Homo sapiens: one gene and its partners. The protein of the gene in region 4 interacts with the protein of the main gene of each other region in a biochemical or structural test. Each region holds a gene or a part of one and is shown on either strand. Other genes may lie near its edges.

Region 1 (2,542 bases), on a different chromosome or scaffold from region 4:
TTCCCCGCTGCAGCCCCGGAAAGCCAGCGCCACATGCAGTTCGGCCACAGCAGCAGCCTCCAGTGGCCTGGAGGAGTGGACTAGCCGGTCCCCGCGGCAGCGGAGTTCAGCCTCGTCACCTGAGCACCCTGAGCTGCATGCTGAATTGGGCATGAAGCCCCCTTCCCCAGGCACTGTTTTAGCTCTTGCCAAACCTCCTTCGCCCTGTGCGCCAGGTCAGTGACTTGCCCACAGGGAATGTGCTGGGAGTTAGGAGGCACGTCCTGGGTCCTGGGTCCTGGATCCTGGGTCCCTACCTTTGACTGTCCGTCTGCTTCAGGTACAAGCAGTCAGTTCTCGGCAGGGGCCGACCGGGCAACTTCCCCCCTTGTGTCCCTCTACCCTGCTTTGGAGTGCCGGGCCCTCATTCAGCAGATGTCCCCCTCTGCCTTTGGTAAGCCTCCTTTGTCTGGGGGGATGGAGGCTGCTAGGAGCTGGGAGAGACTGGAAGAAGTGGCAAGTCCTGAGAGGGGCTTTCTGGAGCCTCTGGCCATCTCCCCAAGAAAAGAAGGGAGAGGCACTGGAGGGGATTTTTCAGATCCAAGGAATTTGCCCCAGAAGGGTCTGGGGTCTAAGTGGGGTTTCACAGGCCTAGCAGATCCTTCTGTTTTGAGAAAGGAGTGAGAAGGGCCCTATGGGATTTCTCCAGAGCCCCAGATGTCGGCACAGGGTGAGGAGAAGGCAGGCTGAGAGCGCTCCATCATCCTTTTCCTCTTCCTCTCGCCCAGCAGGTCTGAATGACTGGGATGATGATGAGATCCTAGCTTCGGTGCTGGCAGTGTCCCAACAGGAATACCTAGACAGTATGAAGAAAAACAAAGTGCACAGAGACCCGCCCCCAGACAAGAGTTGATGGAGACCCAGGGATTGGACACCATCTCCCAACCCCAGTACTCCTGCTCTCCGGTGCCACCTCACCTTCTTTGGCTTCTTCCCTCTTGCCTCCTTCTGTTCTTTCTGCTCTCCCCTCTTTTCCCTCCTCCTCACTTCCCTCTGGCTAGCCCACCCCTGCACTCTCTCTCATTGCCGCTGCCACTATCACCTGTCTCTCTGCCAGCTGATGTGCCCTGTTGCCCCCCACCCCATCCCGCACAGAACCATCCCTGCATTCCACAGGGGACTCGGGCAAGGGTGCCGAAGATAGACAAGAGGCACACAGAGACAGACCAACTGGCAGCCAGGCAGCCCCAGAGGAGAGAGACATTCAGACAGAGGAAAGTCTCCCTGCCCCTCATTCCTTCCAAGATGAGAAAAACTTGCCGCCACCCCCCGACACTGATGCCAGGGAGGTGGGAGGAAGAAGTGGGAAATTTCCCTTCCCAGTACCCCCAAGAACGTCTGAGCCTTCAATGTTGAATTTTTTCTTTATTAAAATTACTTTTATCTTATAAAATCAACTAATCAAAAATGATATAGACGACAGCACTGGCTCTGTGAAGGTGGCATCTTTCTGGGCAGGCAGGCCATGGGGCATGGAGGAGGGTGCAAAGATATGGGTTGCTGTCTTCTGGCCTCCAGCTGCATGGAGGCCGGCCCAGGGTCTAGGGTGTGCACTGGGCAAGGGCAGGGCGGCAGGTGTCAGGCCGGCTTGGACAATGAAACCCTGACCTTGCTGCATTCCTTTTGCTTCCACCACCACTAGCTTCTTTGGAATCTTGGGGTGGGGGTCATCTTTGGGGATTATGGCTGCCACCCGGGATTTGAGTGTAGGGAGTGTGGGAGCAGCCTTGGCAGATGGGGCACCCGTGCCCTGCAGGTGTTGACAAGATCCGCCATCTGTAATGTCCTTGGCACAATAAAACCAAATGTCAGTTTCCCTGAGCGACTCTGTTCTGTGTGGGGCAGGGGTTGGGCGGGCCTCTGGGCAGAGGATGCAATGGCACGGACCTTGGCTTGACCTCAGAGGTGTGAATGCTCTCCAGCAGGGTCTGTCTGGGGGCCTGGAGTTTGTATTTGATTTGCTGCTTATTAAACCTCCTTCTGGACCTATTGCCACTGGAAAAGCTGCGTCTTTGCCTGCTGACCCCACCCCTGCCTACCCTATTTCCTGGGGGGGGGGGGGTGATGGTAGCAGAGGACTGTGAGCTTGAACTTCCTGCCTGAATTCCAGCTTCTCCGCCTGCCTCTCACCATGAATGCTGCTCTTTCCTTATCATGATCTGATGAAGAAAAGCCTTGGAAAAGTGCAACTGATACTTTGTAGCAACATGAGTTTAGTGGAAGTAACCAGAGGGGCCTCACCCACTAGGTTTTAGAAGGTGAAGGACGGCTAAACCCTTTTTTGTTCTTGTCCCCCAGTCTGACACCTCTTTGCCTGTCCTCCCTAGGGGTAAATCCAAGGTAAAGAAGGCTGGCTGGCCCCCAGGTTTTCTCAAGCAGCTTTTTCACCATGCCATGATAATGGAGACCCTCTGACAGGATGTGTGTCTGGTTCTGCAGTTGAGGGCATGGCTAGCTGAGTGGCTGTCTGCGGAGTGTGTCTGGAACCCAGTGGCCAAGCATC
Region 2 (4,272 bases), on a different chromosome or scaffold from region 4:
TTGGAAAATCCTACAAATATTTACAGAGCACCTACTCTGGGCTGAGAACTCTTACAGGCCCTGGGGATGCAAAAGGAATAAAACTCCCAAGGTAACATTTTTTTCCTTTGGTAACAGCTTATTGAGATACAATTCGCATATTGAGATAGAACTATTTAAAGTGTACAATGATTTTTCAATTCAGAGTTGGGCAATCATCACCTCAATTTTACATTTTCATTACTTTGAAAACAAACCTATCCCAGCCAGTGACTCACGCCTGTAATCCCTGCACTTTGTGAAGGCAAGGTGGGAGGATCACTTGAGCTCAGGAGCCACAGACTGGTCTGGACAACATAGCAAGACGCTGTCTCTACCAAAAATTAAAAATTAGCCAGGTGTGGTGGCATACGCCTGTAATCCCAGCTACTGGAGAGACTGAAGCAGGAAGATTTCTTGAGTCCAGGAGATGGAGGATGCAGTGAGCATGCCACTGTACTCTAGCCTGGGCCACAGACCCTGTCTCTTAAAAGAAACCTGCACCCTTTATCACCCCCTACTCCCCTCTTCCTCCCATCCCTAAGCAATCATTAATCAACTTTCTGTGTCTGTATATGTACTTGCCTATTGTGGACATTTCATATCAATGGAATCACACAACACGTGGACCTTTGTGGCTGTCTTCTTTGACTTAGCACGTGTTTAAGGTTCGTTCCTATTGTAGCATGTATCAGTAGTTCATTTTTATGGCCGAATAGTACATTTTATGGATGTATCACATTTATCCACTCATCGCTTGACGGACATTAGCGTTGTTCCCATCTTTTGATTGTTAGAATGTAATCAACATTTGTGTACAAGTTTTGTGTGGAGGTATGTTTCCACTTTTCTTAGAGGAGTGGAATTACTGGGTCAAATGGTCACTCTTGTTTGACTTTAAGGAAAGGACAGGTTATTTTCCAAGACAGCTGCACCATTTGACATTCTCACTTCTGGGGTATGAGGGAACACATTTTTATTTCCCGCTAAATCAGGTTCATTTTTTAGTTTCTGCTGGAGGCTACTAGCAAACAGCAGAAACTTGAAAGACTGTTAATATTCTTTCTTCTGGGGTTTCGGGCACCAGGGAAGCTGCGCGGCCCCTAGGAGTGCTGGGGGTAACCTCTTCAGAGGGTTAATGGGGTGGGGGGGGGGCAAGTGGCCGACGGCCTGGTGGCCAGGGTGCCCCGCGCCCTGAGGCCCTGCCCGCCTGCCAGCGCCTGCGAGCCCGAGTGACCCCTGCGCCGCGGCCGGAGCAGGTGCCCTCTGTGTCTGCGGGCCCAGCCAAGCCGTGGTGCGGACGGCGGATGATGCTGGGTGCCCGCCCCCCGGCCTGAGGCCCGGGGCTACGCCCGCTAGGCGGCGGCGCGACCGCTGGGGGCGGGGGACGAAGGCCGCGCCCCTGCGCCCGTCCCGCCAGCGTCCCGCTGGGGGCGGCGGCCTGTCCCGAGCCCGCCCAGGCTCTTCCGCGCCGGCAGGGGCAGCAGCGGGAGCAGCGCGGGGCGGAGCGGCGCCAGCAGCCAGGAGCGGCCCGGCCCGGCCCGGCGCGGCGGCGGCGGCGGCAGCGGCAGCGGCAGCGACGCCAGAGCCCGTGGGCGCCGTTCGCGAGGCCGCCGCAGAGGCCCGGCCGCAGCGCAGGGAAGCCTGGGGGCCAGAGGTCGCCGCTGCCGCCATGCCGCTGCTCTTCCTCGAGCGCTTCCCCTGGCCCAGCCTCCGCACCTACACGGGCCTCAGCGGCCTGGCCCTGCTGGGCACCATCATCAGCGCCTACCGCGCGCTCAGCCAGCCCGAGGCCGGCCCCGGCGAGCCGGACCAGCTAACGGCCTCGCTGCAGCCTGAGCCGCCGGCGCCCGCCCGGCCGAGCGCCGGGGGACCCCGGGCCCGCGATGTGGCCCAGTACCTGCTCTCAGACAGCCTCTTCGTGTGGGTGAGCGAGGCGGCCGGGCCCGCGGGGCAGGGGCGGGGTCCGCTGCGTCACCCTTTATCCGCGGGGGCGTGGTGGGCCTAGGGGCCCCTCCGCCAGGGACCCCCGAGGGCGAGCGCCTGGGGGGCGCGGCCTTGCTCGCGGGAGCGCTGCTGAGGGAGAGTGGTGAGGCGCGGGGAGGGGGAGGGGGCCGCGGGCGGGAGGAACATCGCGTGGGGTTGCGAGGAGGAGGCCCCGAGGGGCAGGCCAGCGTTGAGGGCTCCGGGAAGGGGGTCGGGGAGGCGGCGGGTGATGGTCTGCGCTGGGGCGCGGACGGGGCCTGGGGCAGGGGAAGGGGTTAAGGGGCAGTGGGGAGGAACGGGCTGGGTTTTCTGAGGGACCCTCGGGAGAAACTAGAAGATCTCAGAGGGCAGGTTCAAGGGGAGGTCGGGATCTGGGAGTGCGTTATCCCGAGGGTTGGACGAAGTAGAGTGAAGTTGAAAGCTTTTCCCACTTGGTCAGGCATGGGATTGTTAGCGGATTTTCTTCCGACGAAGAGGAGAGGGCAGAGGGGAGAATTCAGACGTTGAGTATGGGGGAATTTTCGGCACTCAGGTGTCTTTGGACATTCCGGTTGGAGAGAGGCCGTCTCCCACAACTTTTTTGCCGCTTAGTATTCGATTGTCCCCTTTGGGAGCTGTGTAATGAAACAAACACCAAACTGTGCTTCCTTTTCTGCTGCCTTTACCTGATGTTCATGACAGTTTTCCTTTGATGTCTGAACGCAGCAAAACATTCACAGTGTCAAGAGGCAGCCCATCATTTTAACTGAATGTTTCTTATTTGAGGATCTATTCTAACACAGTTTCCAGGTTGTCTGCCCCTGCGAGATAAGCAGCATTGATAAGGCACACATGCTGGTTTCGTTCATTAGAACAGATAATTTCAGACTGATCAGATCAACGGTATTTTGGCTAGAGAATTTTGCTTTCATCTTGGCCTTGAATACTTATGTAAATCCCGCAGTGATCAGAAAAGTTTCTCCAGGATTTAAAGCCTCACTTGGATTTAATATGGCTTCTTGGATCTTGTCTCCTTGCATGTTCCCATTTGGGGTTGAAAGTGGGCTGTAAATGACTGAGAGATTAATATTCCAAGTTGATAGTATGATATGCAACTCATTTGTTATAATTAGTCCCACTGTGCTTCATCAGGAAGCGGTGGGATTTATGGACTCTGTGGGCTGTAGATTAAGTCTCCTGGTCCTTCTGATGGAGAGTTTAGTAGAAGGCAGTGAAGGGTGAAGTTCCTGTTTATCTACTGCTGTGTAAAGCTGAACTTTACAGTCCTAAAGAAGGGAGAAGCGAAAGAACTCAACTCACATCTCTTGCTTAATTTCAAATCTGTTTTTGCATTTGAGTTAGCAGGTAAACAAAGTGATATGGAGAGTGTTTTTGCCATGTTAAGATTATAATGTAGTCTTTGATATTTTTTAAGTCTAAGATATAAATAAGCCTTTGAGAAGGAACCCTTATTTTATTTATATAACAACACTGGTATTGTTTAATGGATTTCCCCCCGCAGGACTTTATTTTGATAAAAGCCATGTTCAGATTCTAAAGTTAATATCTCTTCAGAAAACATTACATAAAAGCTGTTGATTTTTCTGTGATGATGATTACTTTTTAGGAAATTTCCTTTTCTTCCAGCATTTTCAGTAGAGGTCTTACCTCTGGCAGGTTTATCACTTCTTACTCTCCGCTGATGATATTTTCATTTCTCAGTTGATCCTAGTGCTGTTTTTCTTCCATCTTTCCTCTGGGGTCTCCACGTGTTTACTTTGGCCTGCTTTGGTTTCTCAGACCCTCCATGTGCTCACTGTTTGTCTCATCACTCAGTGTATATGTAGTTTCTGCTTTAGCAGCTGAGTAGAAGTGACAATCTCAAAAGCCTTCCCCAGTGGTGGGACAGATTAAGATTGTTGAGTGAATACCCTATGTGGTGGTGCCTTTGTCAACTGGATCCTCCTTGCGCCCTCCCCTAGTTCTATTGAATTCAGATTCAACTTTTTCACGAACACTGCCTGCCAAGGCCAAGCAAGACAAAACAAAGACTGATCCTTCTGCCAGTGCAAGTCCTGCTAGATATTAACATATTGTAATTCCCAAAACTTATCTTTTTAGAGCACAGTTTAGAATAATATCGGTCTGATAGCATCACAGGAGGTTTTTCATGAACAAACACAATTTAAAACCTTTCGAAGGTGTTATTTTGGGCACTTTGGAGGGCATATCTGTGAACAACACTTTCCCCTACCCTCAGTAATATGGCAAAATTTTATAGGGGATAAT
Region 3 (3,500 bases), on a different chromosome or scaffold from region 4:
TTCCCAGAAGAGTAGATAACATAAAGTAACCAGCGATAATAATTTTCATTATCCAATTATTTCATGTGTCTCCATAACACTTAATACATCATGTTTCTCTGCACAGTAATTCACTATGTACAGCTAGGGTGAATAGCAGGAAAAAAGAGATCAGATGATAAAGAGAAGGGAGACAGATTTGTGTGACTTGTATAAGATACTTCGCCTCTCTAATCCTTTGTCCTTATCTGTAAGAAAGCAGCAGTACCCAGGCTGCTGTGAGGATCACATGAGACATTATGAGAGTTTAGCACAGGACTTGGCACATAACAAGCAGTTATTAGGATGATGTTAGTTTGGATTATGAATTCAAGATACTACAGCTACATTTTTTATACTTTCTTAAACATCAATTTAAGTCAATTTTAATTAACGTTATTTTACTAGGAGAAATGTCTCTAAAAACATAAGAATTCTATTTGAAGTCTACAATGATAATTACATTACTCTGATATCTTAACTTCCTCTTTATGATTTCAAATAATTAAAATTTAAGTTTATGTTTTCAACAAGTGCTTATTGAACCTCTACTCTTTGCCAGTCACTGTTGAGGACACAGAAGAAATGGATAAGATATCACTAAAAACAGCTTCTGCGATATCAGTGGGTATACATAAATTATTCACACTCAACAACAAACACAAGCAAAGCTGGGAGAATGTGCTGACAGGAAAGAAAATGAAGAGTGGGAGAGTGGACAGATGGGAATCGATGTGAAATTTTATAAAACATGTCTTGGCCAAGCTCAGTAGGGGAAATATGTGGAAAGTAAGCTAGACCAAACAGAGAATAAAAGTATAAATAAGAAAAAAAATCCAGAGGTCACAGTGGACCACTAGCCAAAATGGGTTCACAGCAAACAAACAAAAAAATGTAATGAAATACTAAAATTAAAGAAGTACAAATAAAAATGAGATTCTGTTCTTATCTGTCAGAATGGCAAAGATTCAAAGAGTAAAATATTCAGAGTTGTTATGGGTGTAGTGTGGAACTGGTCTCATATGTGGCTAGAAAAAGGGAGAACTGGTATAATCCTTCCAGAGAATAATCTGGTAATTATTTTTTAAATTGGCAAATATTTAAATTTGGCAAAGACTTAAAAAATATATATACCCATTGGCTCAATAATTCCTTTCTAGGCACCAATACTAATAAAAAGTATTCAAAAAATTAAATAGATGGTGTACTGCAATATAATGAGTGAAACATCGCAAGCAGCATCACTTTATACACTAGGATATTGGTTATAAAATGGTAATACATATTTTAGATAGAATATAATGAAACAAAAATTTTGCTTATCAAAAAATGTTAGTAACATGGGAAAATGCTTGTAAAACAATGCTAACTGAGAAGAGCAGGACAGGTAGGTAGATACAAGGCCAAACAGATACACACGGTGGAGAGACATATCCCAATTGTTAGGAATTTGCTGTGGTTGGTTAGGATCTGAACAATTTATATTGACTTTGTGATGACTTTTAAACGTTTTCTCTACCATAAGAATTTTTTATGTTTATAATTTATGCTAAAGAACAAGATGTATTTTTTGTAATTCAGGAGTAAAGAGGAGAGTGGGGTATTCCAGGGTGCTGTTCCTGCCCTAACCAGGAGCACGATGCAGTCATAGGCCTCTGCCCTCCTCCAGCAGCCTCGGCTCAGAACAGGACGAAGCCAACCCTCTCTGACCAGCACCACCTCGGGCGACCCCTGGACGCTCCACCTGCCCCTGTGTGTGGTACCTGCCCTGCTACACCTTTAACAAGCACCCCTGCAAGCTCCCTCCTCCTTCCTTCCCTGTCCTGTGGCTGCCCAGACCCAGATGTACCCTGCCTGGGTGTGGGAGGCCGCACATCAGAGCAGTCTATGGCTGTGGGCTTCACAGCTGAAGCTGGGCCGTGGGAAATGTTGAGACGAGTGAGTGCAGAGCCTGAAAGACAATACGGTAGAAAAGGTTACATCCGCGGGGGGGCGTCTGATGGCATCTGCCATTTATTGAGGATGGGTGCGAGACAGGGTAGCCATTATGATCCCATTTTACAGGTGACGAAACTGAGATCAGACAGGCTAGCTACCTTGCCCAGGGTCACAACAGGAAGGAAGCAAATGCAAGTGTGTCTGCGGCCACGTAAGGTGAGAGAAGCGCTATCAGGGGTGGTCTGACAGAATCCCCAGGCCAGGGAGCAGTTGTCCTCTATCCTGTGGGGTCAAAGGAGGGGACAAGAAGGCTCTCCTTGAGGTAGCTCCAAAGAAAAGACCCCGCCAGAGCACAGTGTGCTACCAAACGCTGGAACAGCCTGGAGACTGTCCCTGTCTCTTCTCTGAGGTTTCTCATTTCAGAGAAACTCTCATCCGTCTGGCTTCCCCATGGCCCTTACTCTGTGATTCTCTTATGTATCAGCTGTTAAACCAATAAATCCGCCAAATTGTTGGGATGCCTATAATGGCTTTGGGTCTCCACTCCCACAGAGGGAATCTTATTCTAAAGTTCTAAATGTATCAGTCATATTTTCCTGAAGACAACAGAAATGGTTGTTTCATTTACTTATTTTTATGTATGCTTTTTCAAGAGTTGTTAACCTGTGTTTGTGTTTAAATAAAGATCTGTTTTGCAAAACAAAAACTTTATGAGATAATCACTTATAAACGTAGATAATTAAGAAATGGTTCAGGCTCAGCACATTGTCTGAGAGCATTGCAGTCCTGCACTGTATTTCATGGGGGAAGAAAAGCCCACAGATGGAGCCATTCTCAATCCTGCTTTCCAGGGTCACTGAGTCAGGGTGCCTGGCATGCATGGGTGCATGCACACACAGGCAGAGGGCCAGGGAGAACTGTGCTGTGTCCACAGAGGGCAGCCTGGATCACAGAGCTGACCAAGAACGGAAGCAGCAAGTTGTTTTAAAGTAGTTGCCTGTAAAGCCACTTTTCGGCAAGGACAAACACTCAGAGCATGCTCTGAAATGACTTATGCACAGCAGGGCAGCGGCATTTTGCCCCTGGCCTTCCTTCCATTCTCCCGGAATCCCCCTAAAGTAACAAGGACTGACGCAATTCGTATTTCACTTAGCCAACAGGTTGATGAAAAATCATAAATCTGTAGCTATTAAACTCATTAATCACATCCATCAAAATTCTGTGAGGAGTTAACTTTCTTCATATAACTCTTAGTCTTAATTAAGTTTCCCTCACATGTGATAGCAAACGTTCAAGAAGTGCAAATGTGCAGACGTGGCGTATATAATGCAAGCTTTATGTCTTTAAATTAATAAAATTGAGTCCTATCAGGTCGTGTTTCAATTACCATCAAACCTTCCAACCTCTGTTAATTCAAAAAAAAGTAACTTCTTTAGGCAAGTCATGGAAATAGCACTAGGGTGCCCTCAGGTCTCCACCAAGCCTTGTTAGTAACTTTCCATGTCCTGTCTGATTTTTAAGATGCTTTCCCCTGATGCTGCTGC
Region 4 (5,254 bases):
CCCTAGAGTTCCAGCACGAGGCCTGAGATGCATTACATTCTCAAATATCCATATGAAAAGGTCTGGGGTCTCTAGTTCCCCAATGGTGACTTCTTTTCATATTATAGGAAGCCTGACAGGAGCTCTCCTCTAAGCAAAGCCCAGAGTTGGACTCATTTCACTATAAGAGGCTAAATTCCTCATACTCACATCCTGACAACATTAGGCTATAAGGAGCTTGGGGAAAATCCAGCCATCCATTCACTCCCGCCCCTTAGTGGACTGGGTTATTTTCACCACACAGAAACACTGCAGGGAAAATAGCCACTTGTGTGACCCTCTTTAGCTCTTTCCCTCCCTCCCTGATCAATGTGAGCTTATATAATTGGCTTAAATGAGGAAGTCAGTAGAAGGGGCTAGGGCCAGCCCCAGGCTCTGACTCACGCAAGGGCCAGTGCTGGGTCTGCAGCCTGTGGCCAGGGATGAACAGGAATGTTCCTGTTCCCCATGAGGTTTGCTAAAAGACCCCTTTGGTGGTAGGTTGACACCCCAGCAAGTGGCCTAGCATGGTCCGAGGCAGCCGCATAGCCTGTCTGCATGATAGCAGGCTTCAGGGATCCAGCTTAGCTGGAGGCTTGACTGTGCTAGCCTCGGTGGTACCTGCACTGTCATTCCATATGTCACAATCCAGGGAAGAGAGGCTATCACCGAGAAGAGTTGTCAGTAAGAAGGCAGGACACTCTAACACGAGCAAACCCACCAGGCTTCTGTTGATCCAGGGCAGCATCCCCCTCGCCTGGCAGAGTTCCTTGCCCCACAGCCAAGGCTATGGGAAGCAAGGCCTCCAGCAAAGCTCATGGCTGCCACCAAAGCATCTCTGCCAAGATGCTTCTTATGATACTTAGGAAGGATTTCCACCCAAACTGGATCAGGGTCACCATGACCCTGAATCACAAATCCAACACAGGCTGATTCCAATCATGGTTTGAAGCTTTAGCTGAAAAGTTTGCTGTTTGAAAACCATCAATGTGGGGGCGATGGGTGTGCAGGGTAGGAAGGGAACGCACTATTTTCCAGTGGAGGAAGAGGGTATGCCTCTTTAGGAAACTGTTCTGGGTAGAGACTGCTGTGGGTGTTTCCTCAAGCACAGATAATAACCAGGAGATCAAGCCCCAACATGCGGGTAATGGAGTTTATGTAACATTGAAACTCAATGACTTTGGAACTTTAAAAACATCTATAGTAAGAATTCAAAACACCAAGATCTGAAGGCTACCCCAGAGAGCAAAGGGGCAGCCTTCAGATCCAAGTGGCCCAAGACAGAACCTACAGTAGCTATGGATTTTCTCTAAGAGGAATCGGGCACTCATGACTTCACTTCCCAGAGCTCTGCCCAGCTGCCCAGCAGCCTGGAGATTTCCAGAACAATGGGGAGTAGGTCACCCTGCCCTGATAGGCACCAGGGGGTGGAAACGCCTCCTCGCCCACAACACAATCACTCTCACCCCTTTCCTGGCTAAATCCCACCTCCCACCCTCCCGCCAGCTCCCCTCCCATGCTCCCAATCCTTGGGACCTCTTGGGGAATTATCCAAGGAGAGTTCTGCCTGCTGTATTTTCACTAGGGTCTTGGGACTTCTGCAGGCAGTCAGCCCAAGTGCCTACAGCCTGCCTACTTGGGGGAGCAGATGGAGAGTGTGGCACCAGCAGAAAATACCCAGAAAGCCGGGTACAAAGCCTCAGTAAAGTCCACCCTGAACTTATACATCAGGTGGACCTTGTCGGCAACAGCGAAGAAGATGACAAAGCCGTGGTCACAGTTGAGAAGCACGCCCACCCGCGTGGCCTTGGTGGAGGGCAGGGTTTTCTCCACGTTATTGTGCCAGGCAGAGATCTTGGTGTTGAACCACTCCACGCACCAGGAGGCGCTGTTGCGGCCGAGCCTGCTTTCTGGGCCCTGCCGGTTCATGCTTCCGTAGCAGATGCCTACCCCACAGAAGTTGTTCTTCTGCAGCTCCACCTCCCAGTAGTGGATCCCCTTCTTGTAGCAGTGCAGGCCCAGCACCTGAGAGCAGTATGTGAACCTCTGGGGATGCGGCCGGTAGTTCTGAGGCATCTCAGCCACAGAAGCTACTGTATAGCACTCTGACAGAGCCACTTTGTTGTGGGCGGTGTTGTAGTCCAGGATGACTTTAATGTAATCTGAGAAAACATCACCCCAAGGAATTAATTACAAGGGGCCCAAAGTGCTCTTTTAGACCTTTGCCAAAGTGGTACTATTTATTCACTAGTTTTATCCATCCATGCACCCATCTACCCATTGGTCCATCCATCCACTCATCTATCCATCTGTCTGTCTATTCATCCATCTATCTGTCTATCCATGTATCCATCAATCCATCCATGTATCCATCCATCCATCTATCCATCTACCCATGTATCCATATACCCATCTATCTACCTATCTATCCATTCTTCCATTCATCCATCTATCCACTTATCTATCCATCCTTCTGCCTTTCCATTTATCCATTCATTCATTCATTAATCTATCCACTTATCTATCCATCTGTCCATTTATCCATCCACCCATCTATCCACCCATCCATTATTCATCAGCTCATCTATCCATCCATTCATCCATCCATTCTGTCCAGCCAGCCAGCCATCTATCATCTATCAGTCATCCGTATGTCTGTCCATTCATCCATCCAAAACCATTTACCAGGCACCTGACTGACACCAGATTCTGGCACAAGATGCACAACCATGAACCAGAGAGACAAGGTGCCGGGCCTCATGGAGTTCACACTCCAACAAGCAAGGCAAGTCCATCAGTAACAACACCATGAGACTCACACTCTGCCAAAAGGGTAAGCACACACTGTAGGGACACAGAGACAAGGCAACTGATGCTACAGTTGGGGAACATTTCACTGGCAGGCTGGAATTGGAGCCAAGTAACAGAAGATGAGAACTAGACAGAGGAGAACAGAGAGAGAAAAGCTGTTCCAGACAGAGGGAACAGTGAGAGTGAAGCCACGGAGTGCCAAGGGGATTCGCATGTGCTGGGATCGGGGAAGCTGGGTGGCTGGGAACACAGATGCAGCAGGAGAAGGGAAACATGTTGGGGCTAGAAAGGGAAGGGCTTAGGAGGCTAGACTTTAACTGGTGGGCAGCAGGGAGCCAAGCGAGGCACTCATTTGCTAGGTGGCTCAGGGCATGACACTTTTCACTGGAGCCCGAGTTTCCCCCAAGGCAAAATGAATAAGCTGGGGGTGGAAAAGGCCCTAAGTTGATAGAATTTTACTTTCCCTGTTTATGCGGCTGCCACAGAGTGCACAGCAGCTCCTGAAAGACGTGGCTCAGCACCGCCGCTAGCAGCTTGGGCAAGAGTTAGCTGCAGCCCAGGGCTGGTCTGGGCCTCTCTTGGGGGGCAGGGACAGCGGAGGGCTACAAGAAGGCCAGCCCTGAAAAAGCAAGGGACCCACAGATCCCCACCAAGCCTGCTGCAGCTGCTTATGATAAAGGAAGGGCTATATTTTTCAGTGATTGGCTTTGGCCTCCACATGGAAGTGGGTACCACTGGCAGGTGCTGCCTGGAGTGTTGCACGTGGGTGCAGAAGAAACAAGAAGACGGAAAGTGGGAGGGCCCTAGGCCTGGCCTTGACAACGGAACTCCACCCACTTCCAGGTTGGACGAGCTTGCAAAGGAGGGGTGGATGGAAACCCAGGGGGGTATAGCAGCTCAAGCGGCAAGGGGAGAGAGTGTCAGAAGGAGGAGGAATGCCACTGACAGGTGAAGCTAAATAAAAGCTGAAAGGCGTCCCTGGATTTTGTGACACGGAGTACCCTGATGACCTCAGAGCTGCCTGGGTCAAGGGCAGGACAGAGGTCAGAATGCAGTGGCACGAGGATTAGACTTCAGGCTCCCACCTCGGCCCCACATTGCAACCCTGGGCAGCCAAACACCAACATTCTGAATGAACCAGTCTGGGGGACAGCCTGGGCATCGGGGATTTTAAAAAGCTCCCCAGGATTCCAACACGCAGCCACAGTTGAGAGCCACCAATGTAGAAAATCTGCAGAGCTGCTTTTCCCCAACTGTCCTCAAAAGGATCATGGAGGAAATGAGCTAAACATACAGCTTTCCGTGCTTGCCTGAGTCTGATCTTGTAGGGCTAGAACAGGGCCCAGGAATTTGGTTTTTGGGGTTTTTTGTTTGTTTGTTTGTTTTTTAAGACAGAGTCTCGCTCTGTTGCCCAGACTGGAGTGCAGTGGCACAATCTCGGCTCACTGCAACCTCCACCTCCCAAGTTCAAGTGATTCTCGTGCCTCAGCCTCCCAAGTAGCTGGGATTATAGGCATGTGCCACCACGCCCGGCTAATTTTTTGTATTTTTAGTAGAGATGGGGTTTTGCCATGTTGGCCAGGCTGGTCTTGAACTCCTGACCTCAGGTGATCCACCTGCCTCGGGCTCCCAAAGTGCTGGGATTACAGGCATGAGCCACCGCACCCAGCTAGTAATTTGTATTTTTAACAAGCATTCGGGTGAAAGGGAGGCAGGAAACAGAGCTGCAGCTGAGACAGTTTTGCTAGGTTTGTTTTTGTGATTTGGAGAGATGTAAACGTGCTACAGATAGGCAAGCCTAGGTAGAGATGCTGAGGGTGAAGAGATGGGAATGGAAAGGCCTAAGAGAGAGCAGAAGATTCCAGAGAGCGTGTGGGGAGCAGACTCCAGAGCCCAGGGCCAGGGGGTCTTGGGAAAGGGGCCAGGAGGCGAGGAAGGGGGCACAGTAGATGCAGATGCGATGTCAATAACAGAGCAGGGGGAGCCCCTTCTACAGTGTCTGTCTTTTTCGTGAAGCAGAAGGTGGGCGGGACAGGGAGAAGGATGGAGCTATGGCCAGTGGGAAGTCTTGGGAATGGTGGCTCTGGAGAGTGGTGGGGAGGAGACAGGAGATGCAGGGCAGGCATGCCGGCAACGGGACGCCCGGTGAAGGCCGGTGACCGCAATCGCCCTGCCTTCTCTGCAGAGGACATGCAGGCGCCGACCCACAGAGAAAGGTGAGCTCAATTGGGCCAGACTAGACGGCAAGAGGGAGAGTCAAAGGACCGATTGTGAAATCTGAGCTAGTTAGGAAAAGTAAAGAAAGGCACTGATGACTGGGAGAAAATAAGGGAGCAACAAAGTAGAGGACAAGTGAAGGGGAGTGGCTGATATAGCCGGCCAGCTGGCCTCACAGAGAGCTGCACAGAGCGGCGCAGGAGAGACA

Evidence for each region. Proteins that work in one complex are often made in the same cells at the same time.
Region 1: of the proteins of TRIM25 (region 4) and OTUD5, one has a biochemical effect on the other in vitro, tested with the Homo sapiens proteins (one study listed by BioGRID).
Region 2: the proteins of TRIM25 (region 4) and AMFR form a complex in vitro, tested with the Homo sapiens proteins (one study listed by BioGRID).
Region 3: the proteins of TRIM25 (region 4) and ERG form a complex in vitro, tested with the Homo sapiens proteins (one study listed by BioGRID).

Annotation. Positions count from the first base shown.
Region 1 is NC_000023.11:48,921,524-48,924,065, reverse strand, and holds the end of OTUD5 (OTU domain-containing protein 5), read left to right. Parts: intron 1-13; coding exon 14-215; intron 216-319; coding exon 320-433; intron 434-767; coding exon of another isoform or gene 768-770; coding exon 771-892; 3' UTR 893-2,042; downstream 2,043-2,542. UniProt on the Homo sapiens protein: Deubiquitinating enzyme that functions as a negative regulator of the innate immune system. Has peptidase activity towards 'Lys-48'- and 'Lys-63'-linked polyubiquitin chains. Can also cleave 'Lys-11'-linked ubiquitin chains (in vitro).
Region 2 is NC_000016.10:56,422,746-56,427,017, reverse strand, and holds the start of AMFR (E3 ubiquitin-protein ligase AMFR), read left to right. Parts: upstream 1-1,472; 5' UTR 1,473-1,690; coding exon 1,691-1,945; intron 1,946-2,028; exon of another isoform or gene 2,029-2,107; intron 2,108-2,283; exon of another isoform or gene 2,284-3,348; intron 3,349-4,272. UniProt on the Homo sapiens protein: E3 ubiquitin-protein ligase that mediates the polyubiquitination of lysine and cysteine residues on target proteins, such as CD3D, CYP3A4, CFTR, INSIG1, SOAT2/ACAT2 and APOB for proteasomal degradation.
Region 3 is NC_000021.9:38,491,978-38,495,477, forward strand, and holds part of ERG (transcriptional regulator ERG), read right to left. Parts: intron 1-3,500. UniProt on the Homo sapiens protein: Transcriptional regulator. May participate in transcriptional regulation through the recruitment of SETDB1 histone methyltransferase and subsequent modification of local chromatin structure.
Region 4 is NC_000017.11:56,890,050-56,895,303, forward strand, and holds part of TRIM25 (E3 ubiquitin/ISG15 ligase TRIM25), read right to left. Parts: intron 2,181-5,254; coding exon 1,651-2,180; 3' UTR 1-1,650.